7 linked regions of the Homo sapiens genome follow. The protein of the gene in region 1 interacts with the protein of each later gene in a biochemical or structural test. Each region holds a gene or a part of one and is shown in the gene's direction. Other genes may lie near its edges. The genes, in order: LNX1, PTH1R, CNKSR2, MARCHF3, GPRC6A, MAST2 and SLCO1C1.

What was found.
Region 2: the proteins of LNX1 (region 1) and PTH1R interact in a test that uses a peptide from one of them, tested with the Homo sapiens proteins (one large-scale study listed by IntAct).
Region 3: the proteins of LNX1 (region 1) and CNKSR2 interact in a test that uses a peptide from one of them, tested with the Homo sapiens proteins (one large-scale study listed by IntAct).
Region 4: the proteins of LNX1 (region 1) and MARCHF3 interact in a test that uses a peptide from one of them, tested with the Homo sapiens proteins (one large-scale study listed by IntAct).
Region 5: the proteins of LNX1 (region 1) and GPRC6A interact in a test that uses a peptide from one of them, tested with the Homo sapiens proteins (one large-scale study listed by IntAct).
Region 6: the proteins of LNX1 (region 1) and MAST2 interact in a test that uses a peptide from one of them, tested with the Homo sapiens proteins (one large-scale study listed by IntAct).
Region 7: the proteins of LNX1 (region 1) and SLCO1C1 interact in a test that uses a peptide from one of them, tested with the Homo sapiens proteins (one large-scale study listed by IntAct).

What each region holds. Positions count from the first base shown.
Region 1 is NC_000004.12:53,479,987-53,483,486, reverse strand, and holds part of LNX1 (E3 ubiquitin-protein ligase LNX), read left to right. Parts: intron 1-1,632; coding exon 1,633-1,767; intron 1,768-3,500.
Region 2 is NC_000003.12:46,887,721-46,891,220, forward strand, and holds part of PTH1R (parathyroid hormone/parathyroid hormone-related peptide receptor precursor), read left to right. Parts: intron 1-3,500.
Region 3 is NC_000023.11:21,372,948-21,377,222, forward strand, and holds the start of CNKSR2 (connector enhancer of kinase suppressor of ras 2), read left to right. Parts: upstream 1-1,475; 5' UTR 1,476-1,950; coding exon 1,951-2,014; intron 2,015-4,275. Other genes in the region: uncharacterized protein LOC105373146, read right to left, coding at 1,036-1,475.
Region 4 is NC_000005.10:126,873,559-126,877,058, reverse strand, and holds part of MARCHF3 (E3 ubiquitin-protein ligase MARCHF3), read left to right. Parts: intron 1-3,500. UniProt on the Homo sapiens protein: E3 ubiquitin-protein ligase which may be involved in endosomal trafficking. E3 ubiquitin ligases accept ubiquitin from an E2 ubiquitin-conjugating enzyme in the form of a thioester and then directly transfer the ubiquitin to targeted substrates.
Region 5 is NC_000006.12:116,791,585-116,794,834, reverse strand, and holds the end of GPRC6A (G-protein coupled receptor family C group 6 member A isoform 1 precursor), read left to right. Parts: intron 1-306; coding exon of another isoform or gene 307-311; exon of another isoform or gene 312-619; intron 620-1,584; coding exon 1,585-2,693; 3' UTR 2,694-2,750; downstream 2,751-3,250. UniProt on the Homo sapiens protein: Receptor activated by multiple ligands, including osteocalcin (BGLAP), basic amino acids, and various cations. Activated by amino acids with a preference for basic amino acids such as L-Lys, L-Arg and L-ornithine but also by small and polar amino acids.
Region 6 is NC_000001.11:46,020,112-46,023,611, forward strand, and holds part of MAST2 (microtubule-associated serine/threonine-protein kinase 2), read left to right. Parts: intron 1-1,838; coding exon 1,839-1,971; intron 1,972-2,798; coding exon 2,799-2,860; intron 2,861-3,121; coding exon 3,122-3,207; intron 3,208-3,500. UniProt on the Homo sapiens protein: Appears to link the dystrophin/utrophin network with microtubule filaments via the syntrophins. Phosphorylation of DMD or UTRN may modulate their affinities for associated proteins. Functions in a multi-protein complex in spermatid maturation.
Region 7 is NC_000012.12:20,733,332-20,736,831, forward strand, and holds part of SLCO1C1 (solute carrier organic anion transporter family member 1C1), read left to right. Parts: intron 1-3,500. UniProt on the Homo sapiens protein: Mediates the Na(+)-independent high affinity transport of organic anions such as the thyroid hormones L-thyroxine (T4), L-thyroxine sulfate (T4S), and 3,3',5'-triiodo-L-thyronine (reverse T3, rT3) at the plasma membrane.

The sequences.
Region 1 (3,500 bases):
GAATGACCTGCAGCTCTGAAATCTCAATGGTCAGCAATTCTGGAATAATGGCCCATACTACCTGACACATGTGAAACTAATCTGTGGCAGAAAGACAATTTGTAAATGTATCATTGTATTTGTCTGCTCTCATGCTGCTATTAAAGACATACCCGAGAATGGGTCATTTATAAAGGTTTAATGAACTCACAGTTTTACATGGCTGGGGAGGCCTCTCAGTCATGGTGGAAGATGAAGGAAGAGCAAAGGGATGTCTTACATGGTGGCAGACAAGAGAGCCTGTGCAGGGGAACTCCCATTTATAAAATCATCAGATCTCGTGAGACTTACTATCTCGAGAACAGCATGGGAAAGACCCACCCCCATGAATCAGTTACCTCCTGCCAGGTCCCTCCGATGACATATGGGAATTATGGGAGCTACAATTCAAGGTGAAGTTTGACTGGGGACACAGTCAAACCATATCGATGATGTGGAGTGGACCTTTCCAATAAGTACTATATTTGCTATTCTGAATGCCTGTCCAAATATCAATGTACATAGCAGAGAGAATTAGCAGAGTAACTGGTAGTTCCATAAAAAATAAAGAAATCAAGGCAAATTACTCTTTTGCAGTTTTTTAAACATTTTGTATTTCAATAGCTTTAGGAATACACGTGGTTTTTGGTTACATGGATGCATTGTATGGTGGTGAAGTCTGAGATTTTAGTGCACCTGTCACCTGAATAGTGTACACTGTACCAAATAGGCAGTTTTTCATCCCTCACCCCACTCACCCTCCCCTTTTCTGAGTCTCCAAAGTCCATTATATTACTCTGCCTCTGCATCTCCAGAGCTAAGCTCCCACTTACAAGTGAGAACATGCAGTATTTGATTTTCCATTCCTCTGTTACTTCACTTAAAATAATGGCCTCCAGTTCCATCCAAGTTGCTGCAAAAGACATTTTTTCATTCTTTTTTGTGGCTGAGTAGTATTCCATGGTATATACATACCACATTTTCTTTATCTACCTATCAGTTGATGGGCACTTAAGTTGATTCCATGTCTTTGTGATTGTGAATTGAAGGTAAAGGATTTTGATTAGGTTGTACATATTAATGTATGAAGTCATCCCCATATTTCTAAAGTGCTAAACCTTTCCTATGCCCAAATATTTGCAAGTGTCAGGCTCAGGATTTCTCTTCCTGCAGTGGCAAGTTACTGCCATTAACTCCATCTCTTTTTCTTTACTGTGTACCATTGATCTTAGATCTTTGCTTTGGGCTGCTACTTTACACAGTGCACCTAATTCTATCTGGGAAGAACTTAGGGCATGGCTTGTGTGTGGTACAACCATTAATTAAAAATGAATTAGCAATATCTGATGATGCCTTTTCAAAGATTGGAAGGAACCAAACCTTCCCTAGTTTTCCCTTGGAGCAACATTTACTACCTGGTTTAAGGATAAAGGAAAGAGCTCTCATGCTCTTGGCAAATTACAAGATGGATAGTAACAAAAAAACCCAACAAACTAGAAATCATGTTTTGCCATAAAAAAATGGTATAATCAAAGTGATGTTTTTGTAAGCTCCTGGTGCTGAATGCAGTGGATGGAAACTGACAGTGGCTAATGCCTGTGTCTTCTTGCCCAGGCCAGTGAAAGACGTGTTCACCTCGTCGTGTCCCGCCAGGTTCGGCAGCGGAGCCCTGACATCTTTCAGGAAGCCGGCTGGAACAGCAATGGCAGCTGGTCCCCAGGGCCAGGGGAGAGGAGCAACACTCCCAAGGTGAGGCCTCTAGGGCAGGTCGCCTGCTCCTGCAAGGGGCTATTTCTTGGGAAGGCTGCTTGTTTTAACATGTCTAAGTGTCATCTCTGGACTTTTTTACTTAAAGAAACACTTTGACTTGTAAAACTAAAAGCCCAAAGTCCCATATTTAAGACTTGGAGAGATAACAGGTGTCTCCCATCCAAGCAGGAGAGAAGAAGGTGCAGGAAAGTTTTGAAACCTGATCATGCAGACCTCATACAGGGACCTGATTTCTAGCCTAAGCCAAATAAATGGCATGTTTTTACCAAGAGTCATCTTGTTTGAGGACTTATTTTATTCACTTTGAAATGAAGCAAGCAGTTTGCCTGGTTTCTGGCTTTTGAATTTTTCAGTCTGCCTAGAAATGAGTGATTTCCCCGCTACTTTTAGTTTTTGTTTGTGTTTGCCGAAGGGCCCAGGAAGATAATTTAAACACTTGAAGCTCATGTAACATTAGGGAGTGGTGGGGATTGGGGCAAACCAGAGAGCACATGTTATATGGCATTCAAATCCAGAAAACTCTAAAACACTGTGGATCTGTGGGTGGAATTCATTCTTCAGGCCACCAGTTTGCAGCCTCACTTTAAATGAAGTGACTCAGCCCAATTTGTACTTCTCTCTGTGGCTTCTATTAGAGGCAATGCCTTAACCTCTTCATTTGGATGCGTGTTTAAGCAACACAAACCTTGTTTAGTCCAAATTAAGAGTCCTATAGCTTTGGCTTGGCATCCTGTTGTGATGCTGATGAGCTTCTTTCAGTCATCTCTCCTGAGTTCTGGTTTCATGGCATCACTTGTAACTAAAAAAAATTCTTAAAGGTAGCTCATTCTTCTTGCAACAGAAAGTAGGGAATGCCCTTTTCTTTCTACGTCAATCTATATGTTGGTTGGAATAGCTTACAAATTGAGTTTTTGAGTAATATATAGAGAAACAATATTCAAATTTTTTATTTTGGAACATCTCTGCTTTATACTATGTTAATTACATAGCCTACAAGGTTATACACCCCTCCAGGTTCTCCAGCCAGCCAAGCCTCATAAATCCATAAATTACCTGTTTCTCTACAATAAGGAGTCTAGACAGACCAGATATATCCTGCTAAAACATTTTATGGATAAGGACTCCGTGATGTCTTTTTGCTAGTAAATGCTTAATGTTTAAATTTAACTGATCATCTTTATTAATGAAAAACTAGTTTATTAGCTTAATTAATTAATTGAAGTTTTTATCCAATTAACTAATTTTAGTTGAATTAACTAGAATACGTCATATTCTAAGTCATCAAATTATGGAGAAGGTAGCCTCCATCTGCACTGTGGTTTTAGAATTCCTTCCACCTCCTCATCATGAAAGAGCTGGGAGGATCTGGTCACATTTCTGCTGCAACCCTCTGTCATATGTCTTAATTCCTGGAAACGTGCAAACTGACTTAGTCGGAATTGTAATTATTTCCGTTTTAACTTATATTCTATCTGACTTCTGAAATATCCTCACAAAAAAGTAACATATTTAAAAAAACTGAGACATATATGGCTCTTTGATTATTTCAGTTTTTATATTCTTACTAAAATCTTGTTTGGTTTAGGAAACCAGGTAGCTTTTTAAAAATAAGAGCTTAAACAATTCAAAGAAATACCAAAGAAGACAAAGCAGGATTTGTGGGACAGAAAACTTTTAGCCAATTAAAAAAGTTAAGGAATGCTAGGCATCAA
Region 2 (3,500 bases), on another chromosome or scaffold:
CATATTTTGACGTAAATGTGTGTCTTAGAGATCTTCATTTCAGTAAATATGAATCTATATTTTTAAATGCTGCATAGTATTCCAAAACCTGGGACTCATTAAGTAGTCCATAGGAATGTACATTTAGATCATTTCTGCATAATTTGTGTGTGTGTCTATATGTGCGTGATTCCAGATGGTGGCAGGGAAGCTCCTTGAAATGCCCTCTAGTGTCCCCATGTGACTATTTCCTAGTAGGATATTTCTAGATTTTGTCATTGCTGGGCCTGAGAATATACATATTTTTTATTTTAATAGCATGGCCAAATTGCCCTCTAAAAAGCTTGTGCTGCTTTGTACTTATACAACACCAAGACCAACCAGGAGGGCCTCTCTGCCCACACCCACTGTCTCATAGGATGTTAAGAGGATTCTTTGTGTTTCACCTTTGCTTGGATAGGTGAAAATGGTGTCTCTTGTCATTTTAATTTGCTGATTACCAGTGACTTCTGGGCTTTACAGTGAGAGCTTGCTCGGGGCCATTAACCATCATTCTATGGGTTATTTGTCTTTTTCGTATTGATTTGTTGAAGCTTTTTATATCACCTGCTCTTAAACACATTCACCTCAGCTCTTGAAACGGCTTATGGACAGAGCAGCAGGAGGGTGCCGAGCCCTCCGAGGAACTGGGGTTTTCTTCGGAATGTTTTAATGAGGCGTCAAGTAGCCTCCCTCAGATTCCTGTTGTGGGCCTTCTGGGGACACTCCCTGGTCCAGCCACCACATCAGGAAGGCAGCTATTTCAGAAGGAGAGTCCTCAGGAAAAAGAAAAGGTGGGGCGAGGGTTTTGCAGACCTCTGAAATTGTCTGCAAAATACGGTGTGATTGGGAGAAGGGCGCAAACTTTTGCTCAGGTTTGCAGAAACATCAGAGACCTTCAAACCCTTAAAAGCCCCAACTCTGGGGCCAGTCTTATGCCCGAGGTGAGACCTAGTGGGATCCCATTCTGCTGAGCAGGCGATGGCTTAGATTAGGCCATACTGTTCTTCTGGGCCTTGATTCCTCAACCCAAGTAGGGCCTGCTTATGAAGATCCACCAGGTCGTAGCAGCCAACTCCGCTATCCCAGGCTGCATCCCACTGCCTGCCCCGAAGGCGGCCACGCTGGCTGGCCAGGATGAGAGGCGTCACAGTGCCTCTTCCCCCCCAGCCCCTCCCAGCCCCAAACACAGGCAGCCTGTTCAGGAAAGCCTGGCGAAGGGGAGGAAAAGTCAGCACTTGTCAGCGGTGGCGGGGCAGGACGAGGAGCCTGCTCAGGCCAGCCGGACAGAGAGAGGGCAGCAGGGGTGGGGGAGCAGTCCCAGCCAGCTGGCACGGGAGACATCCAGGGGTGCCAGCATGGGTCCCAGTAGTAGAACCTGGAGGAGGGCTGTAGGAAGGCCAGGAGGTCATGAAGGGGTCTCCTGTTAGCCAGGGTTTTCTCCTTCTGGCTGTGCTGGAGGCATCAACGGCCTGGTTCCCAACACCAGAGCCCAACTGTCCTCTACCCAGTTACAGCTGGGGACAAGCCGCCATCACTGGCATCACCGGCACCTTTATGTCTACACACCTCTGCTCCTAAATCGGCTTCGGGGAGGCTGCCTTAGGGGATCTGCAAAGGGAGACTTGCTTAATGTAGCAGCTAAAATCCAGGATTATGGAAAGATGATACCGTGGCTGGTGCCAGGGTACCCGTGTGGCTGGGCACTTCCTCCTCTCTTTCCCTTCTTCCAAGGCTGCTGCTTCAGTGTCAAGCAGATCTTAGCTCCATCCCTGGCCCTCCTCTTTCTGTGACTCTTGGCCTCAGTGTCCCTGTCTGTAAAATGGGGATGTGGTAGAAGGTGCAGGAGGCATGGGTTTTAAAGCTCCTTGCTGACCATGGGGAGGATGTGCTACAGTGGAGGGTATTGAAGCCAAGCACCATGATGGCTGGGTTGGGGGAGTCAAGTCAGCCCTAATCAGGACCATAGGAGGAGTGTTGGGGGGATATGGGACAGCTGGTGCAGGGCTGGGTGGCCTGTAAGTGGTGGGTATGGACTAAGTGACCCCTGGCCACAGCCCAGCCCCAGTCCCTCAGTCCTCACCCCTGAGACCCAAGATCTGCAGATCCGCTGGATCTAAGGGGACGCAAGCCTGAGTCCTCTGCACCCTGGCGCTGAGCCAAGAAGACAGGAACTCCTCAAGGGAGAGAGGGTTGGAGGGGCGGGGAGAAGGGAGTAGCAGACAGGGGGCATGCCAGGCTGAGAAGAGATACAGCTGTCAGCATTTCCCCTTCATCCCCAGGAGATAAGGCCTCCTCAGTCAGGGCAGAGGCAGAGGAGGGGGTCCTTTTTCCTCCTAAGCTCAAGCTTGGGGCCTCTGGCAGTAACCTTGAATCCTAATGTAAGTCCAGAGTGGATCCAGAAATGCAAGGAGCCATTGGGATACTCTTCCATCCCAAAAGCTTGCCAGGAACACCTTATCTAGCAGGTCCTCCTGTAGTCCCTGCCCCCAGTCCACCCTGGGGCCCCATCTCCCATCTGCCCCTCACTGTCACCTGCTGGACTCAGCCATCTACCCAGATAATCTCCCCCAGCCACCTTGGGTCCCTGGCCTGGCTGGGAGCACCCATGTCACCAGGCAGCAGGGGTGCACATGGCGGGGATGTGACTTGCTGCTGCTGCTGCTGCTCACAGTATCAACAATAGCAACCAGCTTTTCCTGAGCTTCACCCCTGCACAGGCTTGTTGTGAAGTACTTCATTTAATCTTCACAGCAGCTTTTTTTTTTTTTTTTTTTTTTTTGAGATGGAGTTTCGCTCTTGTTGCCCAGGCTAGAGTGCAATGGCGCGATCTCGGCTCACTGGAACCTCCGCTCCCAGGTTTGAGCGATTCTGCTGCCTCGGCCTCCCGAGTAGCTGGGATTACAGGCGCACCACCACACCCAGCTAATTTTGTATTTTTCAGTAGAGACAAGGTTTCTCCATGTTGGTCAGGCTGGTCTCGAACTCCTGACCTCAGGTGATCCACCTGGTTTGGCCTCCCAAAGTGCTGGGATTACTGGTGTTAGCCACCGTGCCGGGCCAACAACAGCCCTATTATTACCCTGATTTTACAGGAAAACTGAGGCACACGGGTTAAGCAACTTTCTCAGACACGAAGCTAGTCAAGGGTGGAGGTGGGATTCACATTGTGGGGCTGGTGGCAGAATCTCCTTGAAGAGGAGGGCACAGCTGGAGGGAGGAGTGAACAGGAGTGGGGGCATTCCAGGCACGGAGCTGTGAGCTAACGTTTGGAGGGGTAGCGCACTTGGTGTGGGGTTGTCCTCCTCTTCTTGGGAAAGTGCTTCCTTAACTTTAACATGAGTTATTCTTGTTGCAATGGCTGTGCTAACAGATAAATAGGTCCTAAAGTTCAGGGAGGCCAGAGGTGGGGCCACCACCCCTATGGATGAATGAAGGAGTGTGGGAGTCATGCGTGCTGGAAGCACATATCTTTCCCTCTC
Region 3 (4,275 bases), on another chromosome or scaffold:
TGTCCTCTGAATGTAGGCTTGTCTAGATAATTTTCTAAATGTCTTTCCAAAATTCTGCATATACTTCTAAGTTTGGATAGTTAGAAAAATAAAGAAGCCTAAATACAGGCCATCTTAAATTTTACTTGTTCGCTATCACTAGCATTGAAATCAGCAGTTAAAAACGTCACAATATTTTAACTACTGTGGTTTCAGCTGTTTGTGTGTGTGTGTGTGGGGGGGAAGGGTGTCGTCAACTCATGCCGGTTAAAGAACGTGACATTTCTGCATCTTATAAAATTGGACTAGAGAAAATGGGTTACCATAGGAACTGGCAAAACCTATTGACATTACTGGAATGCTTATTTAAAAAGTTTCTTTTACTTAATGGACCTATTTAAGAATGATAGAGAAAACGCCTATAACGGTGGCAGAGAGTTAGCATCTACACTCTAGGAATATTTGTCTTTTAAAGTGAAGCCTCATTAGGCAAACTGTATTTTACTAACCGTTGCATAGTAGCCTGTGTATGGTTTTTGAAGAAAATGAGTTTTGAAAAATCATGTCTACAATTTGTCACTCATTTTAAATCCCATTGTTGCCCTTCGGTTCTTATTAATATATAAGAATATCAAACACAAAATGACTTCTCTAAAATAGGTACTTTAGAGGAGTTGGCCCAAAACCTGAAACAGAGCCCTTTAAAATGGTACTTGGGGCAGAACCTGTCTCAGGATCACCACAACCAGCAGCTGGCAGGTGACAGCCTCAACGCCTGACTTCCCAGGACCCGCTCATCACCCGGGGAAGATCCGACAGCACTAGCCCTCCTGCCTCATCATCGCTGCGCTTCTGGCAGGCGGAGCCCCGTTCTCGTCCACGGCAGTCCACACCTCCGTCTCTGCAGGCGTACGCGGGTCTCGGGAATCACCTCCGGAGCCCACTCAGCAGCGGGGAGGGCGAGGGCGAAAGCGAGAGCCAGGAAAGCCCGGGCTCTCGCTGTAAGCCCCGCGCTCAGTGGTGTCCCCCTCCCCTCGGTGGTGGGGCCGCGGATACCTCCTCAGCCGCCTCAGCTGTCGGAGTTCAACTGGTGGGCGGCCCGTCCCGCCGTGGCCGCCACCGCCGGGTCCCCTCAGAGGCCTCACAAAGCCATGCTCCAGCCGCCCGCACCTGATTGACCGACCCCGGGCTCTGGCTCTGCCTCGCGCCGCCACCGCCTCCGCCGCCGCGCACGCGCACTTCGCGCGCCTCTGTTCCCGGACGGCCCCCAGAGCGGGAACGCCAGGCTGCGAGCTGCTGGCACCTGTCTGCCTGCCAGACAGACCCTGGGCTCCGGCCTCGTGCCGGCACGCGCACGCGCACGCGCCTCGCGCGCCTGCCGTCGGCCCTGGGGGCGGGACCGCGCGGCAGCGAGCGGGCGGGGGGCTCGTGGCGCGCGCGCCCCGCACCCGAGGGCTGCGGAGAGATATTTTGGGTGGCAGGAGGCCCCTCGTCATTTCCGCCGGGCAGCTAGTCGTGCTCGGGGCTTCACTCCCGCGCGTGAGGCGAGCGGGCAAGTTGGCTGAGGGCGTGCGGCAGAGGCTGCTTCCCTCGGCGACGCGACCCCTCAGCAACTCAAGCTATGAACTGAAGCTCCCTAGGGACGGAGACCGGAGCGGAGCGGCGGAGGCAGCAGCAGCAGCAGCAGCAGCAGCAGCAGCAGCAGCCGCCGCCGCCGCCGCCTTAGCGGGAACTGAGCAGACCCGGCGCGGAGCCACGACTCCTGCACGTTTACCTCCCTGTCGCCGTTCCTGCCGGCGGTTGGCTAAAAGACGTTACAGCCGCGAGACCCGACACACAAAAGCCGCTTTCTCCGCGCCGCCCGCCCAGGGAGGCTGCGGCCAGCAAGGGACCCCACCTGAGAGCAGCTCGGGCTGCTGAGTTCGTTTTGTGTCTGAGCTCTGCGCTCTGCACGGAACCGACCCCGTACCCATGGCTCTGATAATGGAACCGGTGAGCAAATGGTCTCCGAGTCAAGTAGTGGACTGGATGAAAGGTAATGCCCGCTGCGGGGAGGGTGAGGCGGCACTGGGGCGCGGGGCACCAGTGCGAGGTTAGGAGGGGGCGCCCGCCGCGCCAGAGCCCGCCACCGCGGCTTCCACTGGCGGATCGTCGTACGCGTCGGGGCGGGGGTCCTCCAGGACTGGCAGGGGCCTGGGGTCCCCGGTCTCCTTTTGTCTCCAGCTAGAGGGGCGCGGAGCGGCCAGAGAGCTAGAGGGCAGCGGGCGCCACCCCGTTGGAGGCAGGAAGTCGGGAGGCAGAATACCGGCGCATCTTGCGTACTCCCCTCTCCCCTTACTGCCCCCGGGCCAGGAGGACGTGGCGACCCTTATCTCCCAGCTCAGGGTGGACTCCCCCAGGACCTGCTCCCCTGGTCGCCCTTTCCTGGCCCCTTTGTTCCTGGGAAAGCTGACGCCCCCTCGGCGGCCGCCCTTGCCAGGTGCCTTCCCCAGCGCCAACTCTCCCAAGCAACTTTTAGCCCACATAATGGGGTCAGGACGCGGCCGCCCCCATTCGGAGCCTGGCATCCCCCCACACCCAGATTTGGCTGAGGATGCCCAGGGTGGGGGTATGTGCTACTTTGAGGGTGAGGACATCATGCTTCCCCTGGGACAGCATCCTTGCTGCTGTCTCTGGGCTGCCTCCAGCGCATCCCCTCGCATCCTTTGCCTTCTCTGCTTTCTCCCTTTCAAGCCAGTCGAGGTTTTGGACCTCACGGCTTTTTATTAAGGGCTCAACGCCAGATGTAAGGTGATGCGCATTCAGGTACCTTCACATTTCTTCCATCTTGAAGGTTCCCCCTTTTGTCCCTGGCGATTTATAATAACCACAGTTATAGACACTCACCCTCCTAATCGCAAACGTGAGCTTTTTTTCTGATCCCTGGGCTTTCCTGTCTCACTACCTCCCTCTGTTGTCTGAGTTAAGGGGCTTGTAGAGGACTCCCCCACCCACCAACCCCTTGGATCCTCAGGCCCAACTCTTCCCTAAGATTTTGGGAATTGAAGAGGGGATGGATGGGATGGAATGGAATAAAGGATGCGTGGCCACACTTGGGAAATGTTAGCGCTTTGCTCGAGGTCATACCTGAGCAAACTCTAGGTAGATCAGTCAGGGACCAAAGGCTTATTATCGCTGAAAATGCCCGTTCCTACGATGAAGGAGCCCCTTCTTGGGCTTACTTAACAGTCAGACTTTCTAAGCTCCAGATAATTTAGAACGAAAGGTGAGGTGATTGGGAGGGATTGAGAGTGACAGGGAGAAACTGATTTTTTTTGCTCATTCTTTTCCCCAGCCTTTTTGGCCGCTTGCTTATTCTTGTGGATTTTTCTTTATTTTGCTTTCCTTTTATTCCCTTACTTGCCCCTTTATTCCTCATTTACTTTGCTTTTCTTTTCTAATATGTGGAAACTGCTTTGTAACTGCTAAGCAGTACAAATGTGAGTGAATTGAATTAAACCTAATACATTATTTATCGACTGCACCCCTGTGTGCAGTGCATTGTGCTAAGGTGCCATGGGGGATATAAAGATGACTAAGACAAAGTCCTGCAGTGGCTCATCTTTGCTGCTGCTTTTTCTCTTTATGTATTTGCTATTGAAATTCCAATATCTTAGATTCCCACCAATTATCCTCACTCTCCACCTTCTCCGTTTCTCAGTGATGGAAGAAAGAGCCAGAGTATATACAGGAAGCAACAATGCTTAAAACCCCGTTCTTTGAATTTGTCTAAAAGGTTACTTTAGTTTGAGTCTGTTGCTGAAATATTAAAAGACAAGCTATCTTGGCTCCATGGGAGTCTGATTACCTTCATAGACTACCTTTCGCAAATTCCCATGATGCCTGTAGTGAGTGCTGCATACTCAGTCTCCACCTCCCACCCTCCCAGTTATATTCTTGCAGTTTCCCCTCTCTCCATAGTTTAGGTCCACTGAAGCAAGTAGAATATATGATGCACCTATTCTGACACACATTATTAGTTGTCCAGTACACCAGTCCTTTAAAAATCTTTCCAGCCTAAAATGTGGCTTCTTTGAAGTTAGGTTAACATTGTTAGCTGTGATTTGAAAATTTTTTTTAAATGTAAGTCGAATACCTTGTTTTCATACCTGTTGGTGACGCATTTTAGAGCTATTTGAAAAGATCAATTGGGTAGCCAAGATAGTTTGTGTATCGTGTATACATATGACTGGAAGAGAATGAATGATATAATTACCTGTATATTTCAAATCCCAGACTACTTACTGCTGAAATTTC
Region 4 (3,500 bases), on another chromosome or scaffold:
TAATGCTAAGAACTTATCTGAGTCTTATGGTTAATTTAGACATTCTGTTCCCAGGCTAGTGAAGCCCCAAGCAAAACTATTATTGCTTCCTTTAGAAGTCTACGCTTCCAGCTGGGCGCGGTGGCTCATGCCTGTAATCCCAGCACTTTGGGAGGCTGAGGCGGGCGGATCACTTGAGGTCAGAAGTTCGAGACCAGCCTGGCCAACATGGCGAAACCCTGTCTCTACTAAAAATACAAAAATTAGCTGGGCATCGTGGTGCATGTCTGTAATACTAGCTATTTGGGAGGCCAAGGCAGGAGAATTGCTTGAACCTAGAAGGCAGAGTTGCACTGAGCCAAGATCGTGCCACTGTACTCCAGCCTTGGTGACAGAGTGAGACTCCATCTCAAAAAAAAAAAAGTCTACGCTTCCAAAGTTCATCCTGGTTCATTTTGAATCAGGCAACGAAGCTGTTCCAGTAGCTTCCATTGTGATGGGAGGAGGGTTAGAAATAAGAAATGAAGGAGTCTAAGCAGCACTATCTAACTCCTGGTCAACAGCACCACCCTGGGAAAGTCATTTGGCTTCTGTGAGGCTCAGTGTCCTCATCTGTCAAGTGGAAATAGTGGTAATGCCCATCCTGCCAAATTCCCCTGGTGTTATGAGATTTAAGTCAAAGTGTTTATGGGAAAGTACTTTGGAGAATAATATAAGTTCTTGCCATGTTTAGAGGTTTTCTAGTCTATAATTTTTTTTAGAAGAGTGCCTATGATGAAGGATGGATGAAGTGAGCTTAAATGCTGGGCTTTCAAAACCAATGTAAGGCCTTTCTGAAATCCTGCTTTGTAAAGCATACACTTATCTAACAAGAAAGAAACAGGGTGATAGGTGGCTGGAAAAGAAGGAAGAAAGGAAGAAAAGAAAGGTTATCTCAAGAAAAAATGGATGTGACCTCGTTTCATCTCCCATCTCAGGTGAAAGGAAGGTTTGGGTAGAAAAGGTACCTAGACTAGGCTCTTTCAGGAAAATGGTAACATACTTCATTCCAGAAATGTTTCTCACGGGCAGTGCTATGCATGCGTTTAGAATCCAAGGGCCCTGTGTTTAAACCCAAGATTTATCACCCTAATAACAGTGTAAATTCAAATAGGATACTTAACCTCTCTGTTCATCCTTCCTCTTGTACAAAAAAATACAGGAAATAATTGATAACCGCTAGGTCAATCGGTTATTGCAAAGAGTAAGTGAGATAACGTCTGAGAACATACATGCAAGCACCTAGCAGAGTGTTGGCCCCAGGCTCCTTCCTGCGGCTTCCCTGCTCCCCCAGCTTCCACCCTCCCCCTGCCCTTTATAGAATGCAAAGTAGCAGGAGGGAAAGAAGGCATCTCTCCCCCTTTGACTGGTGTGAAAAACGTGCTGTGGAGTCAGCTCAGCAATAGGTTACTGAATATAGAATAACTCCGTCCCAGATAAATGCTGTGCTGAGCGGCCCTGGCAAGAGCCGTAATTCAGAAGCTGACAGCACTTGGAAACTGCCCTGCGGCAGAAACCCATTGTAAACAAGCTGTCAAGCTTAAGGAGAATATGCTGTGAAAATGTCTTAGATAAACAAACACGGTGTCAGTCCAAGCCTGGCTCCTCAGAGGAGCCGTTCCTGGAAGGGCCTCCCTGGTACTGTGAAGAAGGACAAGCGCTCACGCTGCACGCCTCAGAGTGCCTTGGAGTTTCTCGCAGGCACACGTGGCCATGCAGGTCCAGCCTTGACACACCCTCATGGAGTCCCACCTTCTGGAACCTGCTGTGTTCCAGAAGCACACCTGGGCCCCAGGAGGCCAGGGCCTTGGTCAGCTCCACCCTAAGAGCTCAGGGAGAGGTGTCCTAGAAACATCACTGTCCATGTCACAAGTGATTTGAAACCCGTAGACAGACACAAAGAGAGCTGGCTGAGAACTGAGTCCACATTAAACATGAAGAAATTGTCGGTAATGGACTTGGTATCAGCCCCAGTTTGGAGTTTGGAGGAGAATTGAGGCACCATGTACAGGAAGTCTTTCCACTCACTGCATCACTGATGCAACCAGTGTCCAGCACAGAAGGGAATGAATGAGCGACCCGGTTCCTCAAAGTGTGACTCCCAGTCCCAAGGTTTGATTGTTTAAATTCTTCTTATAAAGGGGGAACTGCCAATGGAACGCTGTCCCAACAAGGCTCACTGTGGGGCTGCTTTAGACACATCCCCCACACGGCCTACAAGCATCCTGAGGGTATTCAGCGGTATTTCCCCATGACCAATTCACTCCTATACTCCTTTTCCCCAGTGCAGTCAGAGATAGATAGGTGAGCTGGGCACATTGCTGAGGAGGCCGTTTGCCAAGGCCTAGTCCCATCGATATCCCTAAGTCACACCACTTCCAGAGAGAAAGGGCAAAATCAAAATATGTAATCAGATATCCCAAAGCCTTCTGTGACTTTTTTTTTTTTTTTTTTGAGAGGGAGTTTCGCTCTTGTTGCCCAGGCTGCAGTGCAGTGGTGTGAGCCGAGATCACCGCAACCTCCGCCTCCCAGGTTCAAGCGATTCTCCTGCTTCAGCCTCCCAAGTAGCTGGGATTACAGGCATGTGCCACCACGCCCAGCTAATTTTGTATTTTTAGTAGAGACGGGGTTTCTCCATGTTGGTCAGGCAGTCTCAAACTCCCAACCTCAGGTGATCTGCCTGCCTCGGCCTCCCAAAGTGCTGGGATTACAGGCATGAGCCACTGCACCAGGCCGCCTGCTGTGACTTTATAGCACACCTTTGCCCCAGCCGCAGTCACCTCCCTAATGGGAAGAGTGGATGCTAACATTTTCTAACCCTTCTCATAATATTCATGCGATCACAACTCTTTGTACAGCAGACTTGCCCATGATAGGAGGTTAGTTAGATGAATAAACTAGAAACTTCAGGAAGCGCATCCCATAAGGAGCAGTATTTTTATAATAGTGGCCCTATACTCTCTTCCTCCTCTCTCCTAAACTCAAAAATTTAAGAAATATCTAAGTGAAATTCCTAACATTATTGTTGGAGCATCTTTTTATGTTTTCTTTTTCCTCGCTGCCTTATTCTTCTTCTAAATTAGACCTCCTTTCTTTCCAATTATATTGCATTGCAGGGATGCAGTGTCTTGGAGCATCTAGAGAAGTAGCATTAACCCAGGGCAATGCAAACCTGTGGTCTCCTTGGCGTTGTGCTCAACTTGCCTTTATTTTCCCTGACAAAGAAGCATCTTCTTATGTTGCTTTCTTCTTATTAATTGAATTTGCCTGCAGACTGTAGTGATTAACCACAATTAAAATAGATTAATGTATAATAAGATCTCATCTGTTTGTCTACACAAGTGGGCTGAATTTTTTAATTTCCTGGCCATGGAACCAGGAGACCTGCTAAGTCGCTGACTCCCTGTGTTCCTTGAAGCAGTGCGTCTCAGGCTTGAATGCACATGCGGATCACCTGGGGGTCTTGTTAAAATGCACTCTCT
Region 5 (3,250 bases), on another chromosome or scaffold:
AGAGTATCAAAACTTTATATGTATCTGCATTTTATTATCTCACATTTAAAATTTTCCCGTTCCTTGGTATGTTTAATAATGTTTATATTAGTGGAATTGAGCATTTAAATTATCAATAAATAAAAATGCTATACCACTGCCTAAAAAATTAGATAATTAGCGAGGGAGTTTTTCAGGCAACATGGTAACTAGCAACTACCTTCCAAGTGAGAGAAATAAAAACACCAAGGAGTATGTAACATTTATTTTCCATAAAGACGTACGGGACCCTTTAAAGGCTGTATCTGGGTTTTCTTTTGGTAACAGGGTAAGTCGCTTCCAAGAACAAATGGAGAAATGTAGAAGACTGAAGACAACTTGGAGGATAAGCTAGGAGTTAGGAAAGCCTAAAAGGATACCATCTGCTGTTCCTCTCTATCTCTCTAACACACAGCTCCCATACCTAGATGAGGCCATTAAATGTCCACTGGACGAATGAAATGACAGACACTAGCAACTGTGGTTACAGGGCAAACAGAAAAGAACAGATTTTTTAGGGGAATAGAGTTCGGAAAGAGGAGGAGGCTGGAAGGGTCATGAAGTTTATAAACAGAAATACAACCTTACTTTGAGGTTAATAAAGAAGAGAACACAAAATTTTAAAGAGTTGTACAGGCTGTGGGGTGTCATCAGATGAATGCCCTGACAGAGGCCCTTTGATTGCAGCTGAGACTCACCAACTTTGGGTGGCTGGAATGGGGAGCAAATGTAATATCACTTCTAGAGACAAAACTCTAAAATCAAGTATTTGTGCTGCCCTGCAGCCAGAATAAGCATAAATACTTTTCAAAGTTAACACTTACAGTGTGAGAGGCTCTGATTTACCCACTACTTGGAGAAAAAATAAACTTTAATTCTTCATCAATTGCCATCGATTACAATTTTGCATTATCTCACTTTTAGAAAGAGACTTCAAGCTTTCAGAGTGACCTAGCCATATTGCCTCTGCTTTTGAAAGACCTGCACCCTTATTCACGATAGCAACTCCCATACATTGAGGGTCTACTATGTGTAATGGTCTGTGTGAAGCATTTTACATTTATTATCTCATTAAGTACGGCATCACAATACGGCAGAGTCTTTTCATTTTATTATTTTTTGAGATATGGGAGATTCTGAAATAGGCTCAGAAAGTTCAGTTAGTTTGTTCAAGTTTACAGGAATTATAAGTGGAAGAGATAAGAAAAGCTACGTCTGATTCCAAAACCTTATTCTTAAGAGTGCTGGAACCATCATCTATAATAGCAAATGCATAAGAAGCTAGCATCTATTCTGAGTATATTCATTTCCTAAACATTCACAATCCAGCTGGCTTTTTTTCTTTCTCTATTTTCTCTTTCTTTTCCTTTTTCCTCACTTTTACCCTTTCTCTCTCACTTTCTTTGAGTTTTAGCATGTTTTATTTTAATAAGTAACCAATGTAACAATCATCTATATCTATTCTCTAGTCAGAACTATTAAAGAAGACGAATCTCATTTGTAGTATTGTGGACTATCACCTAGTTTAAATGTTGACAATGTAACTGCGTCTCCTCTGTCTTTTAGATATGCCTCACTGCCTTTTATGCAACAACAAAACTCACTGGGCCCCTGTTAGGAGCACTATGTGCTTTGAAAAGGAAGTGGAATATCTCAACTGGAATGACTCCTTGGCCATCCTACTCCTGATTCTCTCCCTACTGGGAATCATATTTGTTCTGGTTGTTGGCATAATATTTACAAGAAACCTGAACACACCTGTTGTGAAATCATCCGGGGGATTAAGAGTCTGCTATGTGATCCTTCTCTGTCATTTCCTCAATTTTGCCAGCACGAGCTTTTTCATTGGAGAACCACAAGACTTCACATGTAAAACCAGGCAGACAATGTTTGGAGTGAGCTTTACTCTTTGCATCTCCTGCATTTTGACGAAGTCTCTGAAAATTTTGCTAGCCTTCAGCTTTGATCCCAAATTACAGAAATTTCTGAAGTGCCTCTATAGACCGATCCTTATTATCTTCACTTGCACGGGCATCCAGGTTGTCATTTGCACACTCTGGCTAATCTTTGCAGCACCTACTGTAGAGGTGAATGTCTCCTTGCCCAGAGTCATCATCCTGGAGTGTGAGGAGGGATCCATACTTGCATTTGGCACCATGCTGGGCTACATTGCCATCCTGGCCTTCATTTGCTTCATATTTGCTTTCAAAGGCAAATATGAGAATTACAATGAAGCCAAATTCATTACATTTGGCATGCTCATTTACTTCATAGCTTGGATCACATTCATCCCTATCTATGCTACCACATTTGGCAAATATGTACCAGCTGTGGAGATTATTGTCATATTAATATCTAACTATGGAATCCTGTATTGCACATTCATCCCCAAATGCTATGTTATTATTTGTAAGCAAGAGATTAACACAAAGTCTGCCTTTCTCAAGATGATCTACAGTTATTCTTCCCATAGTGTGAGCAGCATTGCCCTGAGTCCTGCTTCACTGGACTCCATGAGCGGCAATGTCACAATGACCAATCCCAGCTCTAGTGGCAAGTCTGCAACCTGGCAGAAAAGCAAAGATCTTCAGGCACAAGCATTTGCACACATATGCAGGGAAAATGCCACAAGTGTATCTAAAACTTTGCCTCGAAAAAGAATGTCAAGTATATGAATAAGCCTTAGGAGATGCCACATTCCAGAATAAAATGTTTCCAGGGTCTTTGCATCTAAGATATAAATTTACTTTCCCAGCAAATATGTCATATATATTTCCTTGCCACCATCTTTACCAAGTTTTAGTTGAACAGTCACTCTGTTCAATCACCTATTTAACAAATAGAATTGAGCCTTCAGCCTGAAGCTCCCTTCATTTCCTACCTTTTTCATTGGTCTCCATCTTTACCTGCTTCCTCTTAGGCACATCGTTAAAGACTTCTCTTCTAATCAAAGTTGTCCCGTAATGTGTCATCCTTACTCCATTCCCGACACCCTCTTCTCAAATCTCTTTGGATTCTCCTCTCTTGAGCATTTTTACTTTTCTTCCACTGTTCAGTGTAGTTGAACAAGCACTTGAGCAATTACTATGAACCAGTTGATATGCTAAATAACAAGGTACAAAAGCAGCAAGGTGTCTTTGATGATCTCAAGGAGCTCAAAATCCAAGGAGAAACAGGCACATATCAACATCTTCAATCAGTGTGAGGAAGTCTATGATTATAATGTATATAG
Region 6 (3,500 bases), on another chromosome or scaffold:
CTACAGTGGAGTTGGGAAGCATGAGGCATGAGGACATGTAAATAGTAATTACAATACTGCAAGAAGTGTTGCAGTTGAGGTCAGTACACAGCGTAACGGGAACCTGGAAAAGGAAGTGCTTTAGTCTTCCCTGGAAGGAACATTCAGTGAATGCTCCCTGGGGGACGTGAGGCTTATTCAGCAAACTGAAGGATGAGTCTAAGTTTCCCAGATCGGGAGCATGGGAAGGAGCATTCAGTGGGGCACAGGGTGGGTTTGAAGAAGTGCTGAGGGGTAAGCCTGGAAGGTAGGCTGTGACAGGGTCATGGAGGGTGTCGGGTTCTCGGCTCTGGAGTTTTTCATTACCCTTACGGCCACTTGGAGACACCAGAAAGTTTAGGTAAGAATGTGACATGGCCGCATTTACTTTTTTCTTAAAAAATATTATTAAGGTATAATTTTCATACAATAAAATATATCCCTTTGATGGTACAGTTCATTGAGATTTAACAAATACACACTTGTAGAATCGTGGCCACAGCTGACATAGAGAATATTTCTGTCATATAAGTTCCCTTGTGCCCCTTTGAAGTCAGTCCTCTCTTCCTCCTGCTCCCAGACAATAACTTAACTGCTTTGTTTCACTAGGGATGGGTTTGCCTTTTGTACAGTTTCCTAGAAATGAAACCATGTTTCTGTGTGGTTTCTGTAGTATGTTCTGAATTCTTTCACTCAGCATGTTTGTAGAAATTCATACATGTTGTTGCATGTATCAGTAATTGGTTCCTATTTATTTCTGTGTAAATATTACATCAGATTTAGTCCTAAGAAAGATTACTTTGGCTGCAACATGGATAGTGAATTGGAAGAGAGGGCAGGATGAGCCAGGGACATCAGGGGAGAGGTACTCAAAGCAAATTCATGTGAGATGGGGTGGCCAGAACTCAGACAGTGAATGGTAGGATAATAGAGAGAAAGAGGTGGATTAGAGGGGTATTTATGAGAGAGACATTCTGACCAAATAGGAGCTAAGGAAGGATAAGAAGTTAAAAGGACTTCCAGGTCTGGCGTAGGTTATATCCAGATAGGTACAGTTCTCCAAAACAGTGAGGCCACAGGGAATGAGAACAGAGTTCAGGGCAGAGGCTATGCTGTGATAGAGCAGAGAGCCTCTCCCTCAGGAACATGAAGTCCTTGGCTAAGCAGGGGCTTGGAGTCAGACCTGGGCTGAATGCTGGTTTTCTGTTCCTTCCTACTACTGTGATTATGGACAAATCAGTGCATCCCTGAAAGCCTTGATTTCCTCAGTGAGGTCAAAGAGTTGCTAGAGGGTTTAACCCAGTGTGTGGCACTTAGTAGGCACTCAGTTATTATGTGCAGACAAGGATTGTGCTTTTCAATGGATTTCCAGCCTCTAGCACATAGGAGGTGCCCAGTAAATATTTGAAGGTATACATGCACCAGTAGGGCTTTGCCAAAGCTCTTGTGAGCCATAATTGAGTGTGTGCCAGGACAGCTGTGGACTGGGCATCTGAATACACCAGACAGTGCCACCTGGCTGATGGAAAGCATGGGACCAGATCAATAGGCTGAGCTCTCTTTAGAGTAAAACCTCTAGTTCTTACTGCCAGGAAGACAGCATATGCTTAGCATGTCCAATCTGGAGGTGACCTGTAAGACATCTTTGTCCCCATTCCTGTGATCCCTGAATCATGTTGTTTCTGAATATTCAGGGGTGGGAGTGTCCTATCACAGAGAAAGTCTTGTTCATCTCAGTCTACTATATGCTGTAAAACCAAAGATGCCAGCAGCTTTCGCTTATATCTGTCACCACTGACTATCTCTCTCCCTTGGTACAGGAGTTTGACCCTGAAGAGTTCTACCACCTTTTAGAAGCAGCTGAGGGCCACGCCAAAGAGGGACAAGGGATTAAATGTGACATTCCCCGCTACATCGTTAGCCAGCTGGGCCTCACCCGGGATCCCCTAGAAGGTGAGCATGCTGCCTAGTGGCTGCAAAGAGGCCCCACTGCTGCTGGCAAGCTCTAACAGCAGGGAAGCTGCTTGGAAAAGAGACTTAGCTTGGACATGGACACAACATGGCCCCGGGGGCCTCAGGATTTTAGGAGATACCCTGTGATCTCTGTGACAAAACAGTCTTTACTTTGGAACTGCTGTTCACATCTGCCTGATAGATCCCAACCTGGATTGCATTGGCCCGGCTGAGTTGCATTTAGAACCTCAGTTCCAAAGAGGTCAACAACAAAGGGCCACAATCACATTTGCAAAAATGGTCACCTCCTCTGCAACTTGCCTCTACTCTTGGCCACCTTACAGGTCTTCCTGTGTCTTTGGGGTAGTCCAACACAGGGCTTCAGAGGATACTGCCATTCTTCTGGGCTTCCTGCTGAACCCCTGCAGCAACCATGGGCTTCCAAGTCCCTGGTCTGTAGGTATCCTGCTCCTGCCTTCTGTGCTTCCCAGCCCCATCCAGTGAAGCAGTCTTGGCCAGCAGGATGGGAACTAGTAACCCAGTTTCAGGCCCTGTTTTCCAGGAAATGTCCCCAGTTTATAGAATTTGCCAGGCCCTGTGAATGGCAATGGACTTCTGGAAATGGGAGTAGCAGTAGGATTTGGCTTGTTTCCTGATCCAAAAGCTGGGACTACATTGGGTATAGTGCCATGGGACTGAATTCACATCCTAGGCTGATGCAAAAAGCATTAATGACTACCCTACATGCACCTGTTGTGTGATCTGAGGATACTGCTGAGATACCTGACATTGCCACGCACATTCTTCTCTTGTATCTTTGTTTCCAGAAATGGCCCAGTTGAGCAGCTGTGACAGTCCTGACACTCCAGAGACAGATGATTCTATTGAGGTAAAAACCCTGAGCTCCTACCCCATTCCTGGAGCCTGGGCCCTATGAAGCAAAGAGCTATGAATTCTCTTTAAGAGAATATCTGAGGAAGGGATGGGGGAGTTGGTGACAGCAAACACTGAGAAGTCATTCTACTCCCAGAAGAATGAGCAGGAGACTGCACTAGAGCTGACAGCTGAGAAGATGCTAGAGCCACAGCTTCTGCAAGGATATGGGCTCTGAGAAGCATGCCTGTCTCCTGCCTTTTCCCTTGTCTTCCAGGGCCATGGGGCATCTCTGCCATCTAAAAAGACACCCTCTGAAGAGGACTTCGAGACCATTAAGCTCATCAGCAATGGCGCCTATGGGTAAAGGCAGGGGTCAGGGTGTGGCCAGGACTGAAGCCGGGTCAGCCTTTGATCTCTTCCATGTGAGAGTGTATGCTGCCCAGTCCTCTGGGCAGATGCCTCGGGGTGGACCTTCTCACTCCCAGAAGCCTCCTGGGTGGGCAGGAGTTCAGATTCCTCTGACATCCGATCATTGTTCCTTTCCCAGACAAGATTCCCACGCCTCTTACTACCACGCATCCTCCATTCCCTGAGCTCTGGGGAAGCATTGAGCCGTGTCATCAGGACATGGTCTATCAAGAAGTTTAAGAGTT
Region 7 (3,500 bases), on another chromosome or scaffold:
ACTAGAGAACCAACCTGATTAATTTAGAAAAACAACATGATAGCAGAAATACAAACCTTGAATAATGCCTCTGTCTATTCTTAATGAAATGATGTACATGTGGTTTAAACTAATCCAACTTCAATTTTCCCATCTTAAAAACAGAAGTAATAACTACCTTTTAAACTTTTGTAAGGTTTAAGCAAGCTAACATACATGAAAGTGAATGCTACTTGCCTGACACAAGCTAAATGTGCCATTCATGGAAACAATTGTTTTCTTCCTCCTTTGAACATCTGAGGAACTGGAGTTACCTCTTTGCAATCCTCCATAGTTGCTGTTGTGCTTGAATCATGTAAAGTTTCAGGAAACAACGCCTGTCCTTCAACCCAGTGTTCCCCATAAAAGTTCTCTTTAGCTGAGTGTCTTGCAATTGGTCAGGAGAATATTTAGTGATGCCTTCAGGCCTCTCATCTTGTATGGGGTGGGTGATTACATTGCTTGGTTTCCAGAGTCTCTCTCAATACAAGGTTGAATCTTGTAGGAACTATATTGCCCTTGCCCATTGAGAGTCTTTCCCATCACTCTACCACTTCACATGAATTTCCAGAGGTAACTTTCTTCATCATTTCACCTATATATGCATTATTTGTTTTCTAAAAAAATTATCGAGTCTCCATCATGTGCCAGGAAGGCCTTCCCAACTGTATCTGCCTGGCCACCTGAAACTCTGCCTGTGGCTCAAAAGCAAACACTCCTGACACTATATTCTGTTTCCTGCCTATTCTGTGGCTTCTTGCTTACAGCCTGCTGTCCATCTCCCGTCCTACTCTTGCTTCCCTGCTTATCTGTCTTGTCTCTATGTTCCAACTTCCATCACCTTTATTAACCTGGTTTCATCTGCTGCTAAATGAGCGCCTGTTATAGTTTTGGCCATCTACAATGTTCAGGAAGATTGGTGAATGCAAAGTTCATAAATTACGGCTTCTGGGAGTTATCACAGCCACATTGTTAGACTCAGCTGAGTGTAGTGCTGCCTTAGTGAAAGTCAGTGATATGGATTAAGAATGTTAGTTGTAACAATGAAATGGAAGATGATTCTGGAGAGAGCAGAAGCCCAGTGCCATCTTTAACTGTCCCAGAAATCCTCACGGTAGAGGGACAGTTGTAGAGGACTTTATAGTTTGTGATTTCCAAAACACCTTAACTTTCATGATCTCATTATATCCTCAAAACACCTTTATGAGTTTAGTTTTGTTATCCTTGTTTAAAAGAAACTGCATGGATCTGGGGTTTGAACACAGGCGTGACTCAAAGTAGAACATTCTTTCTGCATCATAATTTCTAAGCCAAAAGTAAACACAAAGCAGACAACAAAAGCAAACTTTGAGATTCCCATTAAAAGTATTCCTACATAATCAAAGATTAAATATTTTAAACAAATAAAAGGTAACATTTTCATTGAGTGAGTACTAGCCTCTTCAAAGGAGTCACCTTGAAAGACTATAATTGTATTGCAGTAATGCTACTGTTGTTTAAAATATTCTAAGACTCTTATTTTGAATTTCTTTGTATATTTTTGAGAATATTCTTAACAAGGGCAAAGATTTAACCTTTAAGGAAAAGCTCTCATCTTTCAGCATAACTATCTTGAAAGGAAATCTCATTTGGGCATAAACATTCTGGCATATTTGTTAAAACTCGTCTTATAATTAAAATTCTAAATTACAAATCTACTGTCAGCACATCCTTCAGAAAAGATGTATCCCAATGATTCCTGCCCCTGATGATAAATTAAACTTTCAATACTATAAAGTATTTTTCTTTATAAAATATAAAATGTTTCCCATGGGTTTTTCCATGTTGCTTTATTCCAAACGCTGTCTTGACCTGAATATTCAATAGGAAAACTGAAGACAAGTCTTAGATATGATAATGGAAGAAATCTCTCTTCTGCAATAACAAGGACAACTCTGATGTGGACATAAGAATTTACAATCAAGAAACCTGGCAGGGTTCAGTTTCCAGGTTTGTCACTAGCAAGCAGTGTGAATTTGAGCATGTTACCCACCCACGTAGGGGCTGACTTCCTTGATCTGCCAAGTAAGAGGTTGGCATAGATTACTCCAATGTTCCCTCCAGCTCCAACCTTCTATAATCTCAGCCCTACAGTTTCCAGAGTTAAATGATTCTAGACTTTAAAAGGCAGTTTTATACTTTCAGATAATACAAACAGTCTCAGTTAACAATTAAAATTTTATGGAAGAGAATAGGATTAAACATTCCTATAGCACATCTCAGAAGGCCTAGTTCAGTACCCTTTCACACTATTTGGAGACATCTCAGAGGTCTTTGGTTTGTACTTTTGAGGTGACAAAATTCATCATACCAGTTCTACTAGATGAAGTATTACACTGATTAAGAAATTATGGTTGCCATCATTAATGACAATACTTCTCAGAGGCAGAGGCTCAAGTGATTAATTTATTTCTCCAAAATAAAGTACCATTTTTTAATTGACTAACTTACTGGAAATTTTGTTTCTTAGCTTGCTGTGTGACAGGAATTATTCCTGGTTCTGGACATATGGGAGTGAATACAAAAATAGTTCCTGCCTCTCTTGATTGTACAGTTCAGTGTATTTTTTGTTTGTTTAAGCTCCTCAGCTATCTTTATAAAAAATGGGAGGAAAGATATGAGGAATAAGCAAATAAATAAATTTGAAAATAAGGAGCAGAAAAAATGAAGTATGGAGGGCCAATGAATGGCACATATGGTGCAGATAGAAATGACATACCATTGCAAAAGTTCCTTTTGAGAAGAGTAGAGGAATATGAATAGCAAAAAAAAGGATAAAAGCAGAAGGATTAGGCCATTCAGGTGACAGAAAAAAAAGTGAGGGAGAGAGAATACTGGGAGAGATGAAGGATAAATATAAAAGCGAATGGCAGAGAACAAAAAAAAATGAAGGAGAAAAGAAAGAATGCAATCACAATTTTGTGAAATAACTCAAAAAAACCAATTTTGGGGGGGGGTGCAAATTTTGTCTCATTAATGTTTGTAACCATCTCCTATTCTCCCGGAGCTAGCACTTAGTAGGCTTCCAGTAAAATTTTATCAACAAATAAATGGGTAAGTCATTGAACTTACTTGTGAATTTGAGTAAGAAAGGATGCTATAAGATATGAAAGAGCACTATACACTGGGAGGATACACAGGAGAAAGGTTGAATGAACTGGGAATGCACTTGTTGGTTACACACATGCAAGAGGACATGTAACTCCTGCAAACACTGAAAGAGAATTAACTGATAACTGATTGGCTATTTTTCCTTTTACTGGACCATTAGTAATATCCATTCCACTCATACTTAGACAACAATTCTGAATGAAATTTGCACACACACAACACACACACACACCCCACCTGTGATGCATTGAAGTAGTGTCATAAATTGCTCTAAAAGTTTACTTTTCTACCTTGTTAGCTATTTTTATACACCTTTGCACAGAAGTATATTA